Homo sapiens: one gene and its partner. The protein of the gene in region 1 interacts with the protein of each later gene in a pairwise test. Each region holds a gene or a part of one and is shown on either strand. Other genes may lie near its edges.

What was found. The genes of interacting proteins can lie anywhere in the genome.
Region 2: the proteins of SLC35A3 (region 1) and CRADD interact in a two-hybrid assay, tested with the Homo sapiens proteins (one large-scale study listed by BioGRID and IntAct).

What each region holds. Positions count from the first base shown.
Region 1 is NC_000001.11:99,990,377-99,994,031, reverse strand, and holds part of SLC35A3 (UDP-N-acetylglucosamine transporter), read right to left. Parts: intron 496-3,655; coding exon of another isoform or gene 478-495; coding exon 291-477; intron 1-290. UniProt on the Homo sapiens protein: Transports diphosphate-N-acetylglucosamine (UDP-GlcNAc) from the cytosol into the lumen of the Golgi apparatus, functioning as an antiporter that exchanges UDP-N-acetyl-alpha-D-glucosamine for UMP.
Region 2 is NC_000012.12:93,683,730-93,687,384, forward strand, and holds part of CRADD (death domain-containing protein CRADD), read left to right. Parts: intron 1-3,655. UniProt on the Homo sapiens protein: Adapter protein that associates with PIDD1 and the caspase CASP2 to form the PIDDosome, a complex that activates CASP2 and triggers apoptosis.

The DNA.
Region 1 (3,655 bases):
CTAGAGTTCTAACAGTAACAGATTTATAAAATTTACTCTTACTCTCAAATTATTATAAATGCAAGAAACTATTTTATATTTACAGAATTAACCAGAAGATATGAATCATGATACAGATTAAAATGGCTTTATTACTAGACTTAAAATGTCTTAAGAAAATTTTTAAAATATTGAAATATTCTTCATACTAGGCCATTCGACAATGCAAGAGTGCAAATGTGTAGTTACCAATATATATATGCAAACTAAATAAATTGCATTGATTAAAAACAAAAAACCTAGATACCTACTGCTGTCTTTGTAGACCAATAAAATGCAGGCCATTATCTTCAAAAGTTCAGCAACAACCACTGCTGTAGAAGATAGATAACGAGGTCCTTCTTCTTTTAAAGTTCTGGAATAACGCATTGTTAGAACCAAACTGGTAGTCTGAAAGACCAAAATTCCCAGGGAAACGTATTTTAGGTTGGCGAACATTGTTTTATCTTCATTTGCCTGAAAAACAAAATAAACAGGGCAAATAAATAAGATTACAACATATGAAAACTAGTATATTTAAAAACACCGAGAGGGAGAAGGGAGAGGGCCTGCAGGTCTCTCCTCCACCTGCCACCAAAAAGAAAAAAGAAAAAAAAACAGAAACCAAGAGACTCAAGATGAAATAAGCACACTCCACCTTATTCTTTCTGCTAATTACAACCAAAAACCTTGAATTGGAAACAAAAAGCAACTACCAGAAGACTCTGAAAGGTGAAGAAAATAAGGTAAATTGGATAGAGACATCAGATCTTGACGGATGACTCAGCAGTGAGTTCCCTAGAGATTTTTTTTGCTACAGATGTAATCTACTTTGGGTGCTACAGCAGCCCAAAACCTGAAACTGCTCAAAGGCATAGAACAAAAACAACAACAAAAGCCCCAAGAAAAACATACTTTCTCTAACCAAAGGCCTGAGAAGGCAAGAGTCTTTCAGAATAAAATCTTTTCAACTGGTTACTGTGTAATCAGCAAGAAAGAACTTTACTGACCATCCTCGTCTTGAACCAATGAGAGCAGAGGTGGTGGCCCTTCCCCCTCCCACTAGGGGTTACAGCCACAGAAACTGTGGCACAGAGCCCTGCTGACCATTCCTGTCCTATAGAAGGCAAATGTTTGCAAGGAGGCAGTACTCTTCCTCCCTCCCCAGTGGCTGTCTATTAACATAGAAGATTTAAATAGGAAACAGAGTCTCATAATATGCAAAAAGTTCAGGAAACAATCCAAAGTAAGTATATTTATTATACCAACAAACAGAAAAAAGGTCTCAACTTGGATGAGTAAGGACAACCAACAGACAACAATGCAGAGATGACACAGTTGTTGCAATAGTCAGAAAAGAATTTCAAGCAAGCTATCTTAAAAATGCAGCAACAAGCAATTATGAAGACTTAAAATAATTTTAGACTCACATAGTTTAAAAAATAGTACAAGAGTTCATATGTACCCTTCACCCAGCTTCCCCCAATGAAACTAATTCAAAATCCCTATATTTTCCCTAAAGCAATTCAGTATTACTCCAGGAGACTTACTTTAAATATGAAGACATATATAGGTTAAAAAGTAAAAGGACAAAAAAAGATATATCATGAAAAAAATAACTAAAAAAATTAAAGAAACTTTAGTAATATCAGCCAAAATGGGTTACATAAGATTTATTTCTGGAATCAAAGAAGGACATTTCATCATGATAAAAGGGTCAATACATTAGAAAAATATAACCATTTTAAAACACATATGTGCCTAATAACATACCTTCAAAATACATAAAGCAAAAACTAACATAACTAAAGGGGAAAACAGGTAAATGCAGTCATAATTAAAGATTTTTACCCTACCTTTCTCAGTAATTAGTAAAATAACAACAAAAAAGAAAACCCAGTAAGAATATAGAAAATCTGAACACTATCAACCACCATTACCATGGTAGACAAAAAAATGATCTACCTGGCTGGGTGCAGTGGCTCATGCCTGTAATCCCAGCACTTTGGGAGGCTGAGGCAGGTAGATCATGAGGTCAAGAGATTGAGACCAGCCCGGCCAACATGGTGAAACCTCGTCTCTACTAAAAATACAAAAATTAGCTGGGTGTGGTGGCACGCACCTGTAGTCCCATCTGCTCGTGAGGCTGAGGCAGGAGAATAGCTTGAACTCGGGAGGTGAAGGTTGCAGTGAGCCGAGATCATGCCACTGCACTCTAGCCTGGCGGCAGAGCAAGACTACGTCTCCAAAAAAAGATCTATCAGATCTTACTTGAATTCAAGGATTCAAGGAAGGACTTAATGCAGTGTCTAATACCTGACTGCTTTCCTAGTGATGATCACATCCTTTGTCATAGATTTAACTGAAGATGCAATTCAATTCTGAACAAAATCGCTGTAGGCTTTTTTGGTAAACAAACAAACAAAAACCAAGCAAGCTTATTTTAAAATCATATGGAAATACAAAGGACCTAGACCATCAAAACGATTTTGAAAAAGAAAAACAAAATTGAAAGGCTTAAGCTACCAAACTTCCAGACTTACTATAAAACTACAGTAATCAAAACTGGTGGCTGGGCGCGGTGGCTCACGCCTGTAATCCCAGCACTTTGGGAGGCCAAGGCAGGCAGATCACGAGGTCAGGAGTTCAAGACCAGCCTGGCCAACATAGTGAAAGCCCGTCTCTACTAAAAATACAAAAAATTAGCCGGGCATGGTGGCGGGCACCTGTAATCCCAGCTACTCAGGAAGCTGAGGCAGGAGAATTGATTGAACCCAGAGGCGAAGGTTGCAGTGAGCTGAGATTGCGCCACTGCACTCCAGCCTGGACGACAGAGCGAGACATCATCTCAAAACAAAAAAACAAAACCTGGTATTGGCATGAGGACAGAAGCATAGATCAATGGAACAGAATATAGTCCAGATTTAGATCCATATGTCTTATGAGCTTAGGCTGCTGTAACAAAGTATCATAGACTGGGTGGCTTATAAACACAGCAATTTATTTCTCACAGTTCTGCAGGCTGGAAGTCCAAGATGAGAGTGCTGGCATCGTTGGGTTCTAGTGAGGCCCTTCTTCTGAGTTCACAGATGTCTGTCTTCTCATTGTATCCTCACATGGCAGAAAACAGAGAGTTCTCTGGGGTCTCTTTTTATAAAGGCACTAATCTCATTCATGAGGGCTGCACTTTCATGACCTAATTACCTCCCAAAGGCCCTACTTCTTAATACCATCATATTGAGAGTTAGGATTTCAACATGTGAATTTGGGGAGGCAGGGGACAGAGAGGAGAAGAGCACAAATATTCAGTCTATTAAACCATATATAAATATTGTCAAACAATATTTGACAAAGGTACAGAAAAAAGGGGACAGTCTTTTCAACAAATAGTTCTGGACTGGAATAATGAGATCTATGTATTTTTATTTATTTATTTATTTTTTGAGACGGAGTCTCGCTGTCACCAGGCTGGAGTGCAGTGGTATGATCTCAGCTCACTGCAACCTCTGACACCCTTGTTCAAGCAATTCTCCTGCCTCAGCCTCCCGAGTAGCTGGAATTACAAGCACACGCCACCACACCCAGCTAATTTTTGTATTTTTAGTAGAGACGGGGTTTCACCATGTTGGCCAGGATG
Region 2 (3,655 bases), on another chromosome or scaffold:
TGCATACTTGGATGCATCTAAAGTCACTGAGCTCTTAATGGCAGATATTTTAGATATTGTGATGGGTTTATTAGAGAGGTTTCTAGCTTGGGATTCTTTTCATAGGTTCCTCCAATCATACCACGTAATTGACCTTGCTCTGCATGTAAGTTCAGTGTTGGTCTCAGTGTATCTAGCTTGCAGTCTATCCATGTGCTTCCACTGTGACTGAGTAGTGTTTGCCTAGTGGCGTCCTGTGTGCTAGAGTGAGAACAGTGGGTCAGTATCCATAGCAAGACCCTTCCCTCGGTAAAGGGAGAGTCTGCAGAGGGCCCAGGTTTCTGTGTATACCCAGCCCGATTTTCATATACTTCCTAAGGACCTACTGAATGCCAGGTACTGGGTATATAAAGACAAATGGAGGATCTCCAGATCAGTTGAGGGCATTCATGCGTTCATCCAGCAAATATTTGCTGAGTCTTGACCATGTGCTAAACCAGAGGTCCCCAGCCTTTTTGGCGTCAGAGACTGGTTTTGTGGAAGACAATTTTTCAACCAACGGGAGAGTTGGGGGGAATGATGGTTTCGGGATGAAACTGTTCCACCTTAGATTATTACCAGGCATTAGATTCTCATAAGGAGTGCGCGACCTCGATCTCTGGCATGTGCAGTTCACAATAGGTTCATGCTCCTATGAGAGTCTAATGCCACTGCTGATCCAATAGGAGGAGGAGCTCAGGTGGTAATCCTCGCTTGCCTGCCACTTACCTCCTGCTCTGCGATCCGGTTCCTAATAGGCCACGGACCGGTATGGGAGTTGGGGACCCCTGTGCAAGACAGTAGGTGCTGGAGATATAACAGTAAACAAAACAAAGCCCTTATTTTCATGGAGTTCAATGTATTCTAGTAGAGGGAGGGGATAAGGGCAGGGACAGATAATAAGCAAATGAATAAATAACATTTGGTGGTGAAGAGCGCTATGAAGAGAAGCGGTATGTGTGGTGGTGGGGGTGGTCAGGGAAAGCCTCTCTGATGAGGGGACACTGAGCAGAGAACTGAGTTTGGCTGCAGAGTTGATACAGGGAGGAGAGCTTTCAGATAGAGGGGACCACAAATACACAGGAAGTCAAGTGGGAGCCACAGGTGACAATGTGGCTAATAAGACACCTTCCTCCCTGGGATGAATCACATTCCACATCAGCAGAGGCTCAGTGGCTACCTTTTGTTTTGCTCTCAACATGTGAGATGTGTGTGCAGCCGTGATCTTGTGTGGCTCGTAGCATGACTTTAGTTGATACGTGGATGTGGGATTAAGTAATATTGAATTACATGATGAGAAAGTTATTTCCTTTCTATTTCTGTTTCAGTTCGGTAAGAATGATAGGAGGTCCTCATGCTTAAAGCCTTCTGTGGGCAACAGTATTTAGCTAGAATCTAGTTGTATTGCTTTTTTTGTGTCAACTTAATGGGTTCCTTCCATTTATGGCAAGCAAAACTTTTCTATTTACGAAGTTCCTTTTAAAAATACATGACTTTTAGAGACTAGAATTGTGGTTATTAGGGACTGGGAAGGGTATGAGGGAGGCAGGGATGGGGAGGTTGGTTAATGGATACAAAATTACAGCTAGATGGGTGGAATAAGTTCTAATGTCCTAGCACTGTAGGGTGAATATGGTTAACAGGAATTTATTATGTGTTTTCAAAATGCTAGAAGAGAGGATTTTGAATATTCCCAGCACAAAGAAAGAATAAATGTTTGACATGATGGATATACTGATTGCCCTTATTTGATCATTACACATTGTATGCATGTATTGAAATGTTACCCTGTATCCCATAAATATATACAATTTTTATGTATCAACCAAAAATAAAAAGAAAAATGTTCATAGGAATATTGAATAGGAAATAAGATTGAAAGTATACCAAATTATTTAGGAAAAAACCATTACTTACATTTAAGTAGAAATGTGTCAACATAAAGGAGACTATAAAAAAATAGGCCAGGCACAGTGGCTCACTCCTGTGATCCCAGCATTTTGGGAGGCCGAGGCGGGCAGATCACCTGAGGTCAGGAGTTTGAGACCAGCCTGGCCAACATGGTGAAACCCCCATCTCTACTTAAAATACAAAAATTAGCCAGGCGTGGTGGCAGGCGCCTGGAATCCCAGCTACTTGGGAGGCTGAGGCAGGAGAATCGCTTGAACCTGGCAGGTGGAGGTTGTAGTGAGCTGAGATCGCGCCATTGCACTCCAGCCTGGGGGACAAGAGCGAAACTTCGTCTAAAAAACAAAACCAACGGAAATAATGGTTGGGTGTAGTGGCTCATGCCTGTAATCCCTACACTTTGGGAGGCTGAGGCGGGTGAATCACTTGAGGTCAGGAGTTTGAGACCAGCCTGGCCAACATGGTGAAACCCCATTTTTACTAAAAATACAAAAAATTAACCGGGTGTGGTGGCAGGCACCTGTAATCCTAGCTAGTCAGGAGGCTGAGGCAGGAGAATTGCTTGAACTCAGGAGGTGGAGGTTGCAGTGAGCCGAGATTGTGCCACTGCACTCCAGCCTGGGCAACAGAGTGAGACTCCATCCCCCCCAAAAAAAAAAAAAAAAAAAAAGAAAAGAAAATAATAATGGTGTGAGGATGTGGCCAAAAGTTGCTTTTCATCATATATTTTTTTAATTTAAAAAGAAAGACAGGCATTTGGGGGAGGAGCCATCACCTGGCTGGCATAGTTAAAGCAGGAAGGCTCCAGTTCTAGTATAGATAGTAGATAGAGCTGTTTTCATGATGCTTCACAGTTTTGCTCTTTCAATTTATGCCCAGTGATAGGAATTAGTTAAATTAACTAGAATTTCAAAATTCGTAAGTTCTCTAAATTTTAAACACATTTACTTGCTAGTGAAACAAAGTCAGCAAGATGGAGCCATATCCTGGTATTATGAATTTTAGAACTGGGTGGGACTCACAGGTCATCTAATTTTTCTCTGAGAAAACAGAGGCCTAGGGAGATTAAGTCAACTTGCCCATGATCACACAGCTAGTTAATGTAATTTATTACTGGGACTAGAATCCAGGCTTTGCAACTCTTGATTTAGGACTTTTTCTGCTGCGCAATCTTGGCTTCCCACTGAGTTTGAAATGGAATTGTATTATGCTGCAGTGTTAATAATTGAAAGAGGCTTTTTAAAAATTGTACTAATGCATTTTTTTTTTTTTCATTTTAAGAGGAGAATTTCCAAGGGCCTTTAGAGGTATGCTGGAATGAGATTTCACTAAAATATTTTATTTTTATGAATGCTAATTTTAATCATTTAAAAGGAAATGATGATCGTTCAGTACTGCATTTTGTCACAAGATTTTTTTCTTCCTACCTCTGCAAGGCTGACATAAAGGAAAAGCGGAAGACTTTCATCGAGTATTTATGGGACTGATGAAATAATGCATCTGTTGGCAGCTAATTGCAGGTCTTTCTAGGAATAGCAAACATGTGACAGGTCTTGCCCCAGCGGAGATGCCTCCATTTCACTTTAAAACATGGATTTGGTATTCTTTTCACTTAGAAATTCTGGCTATGCCTTTTTTTCTCCCTTCTGTGGATGTATAGACCGTTCGGCTGCATCAGACACTGTATTGAACATCAGGGTTGATTTAACTCATTGTTGCTCAGCTGTGG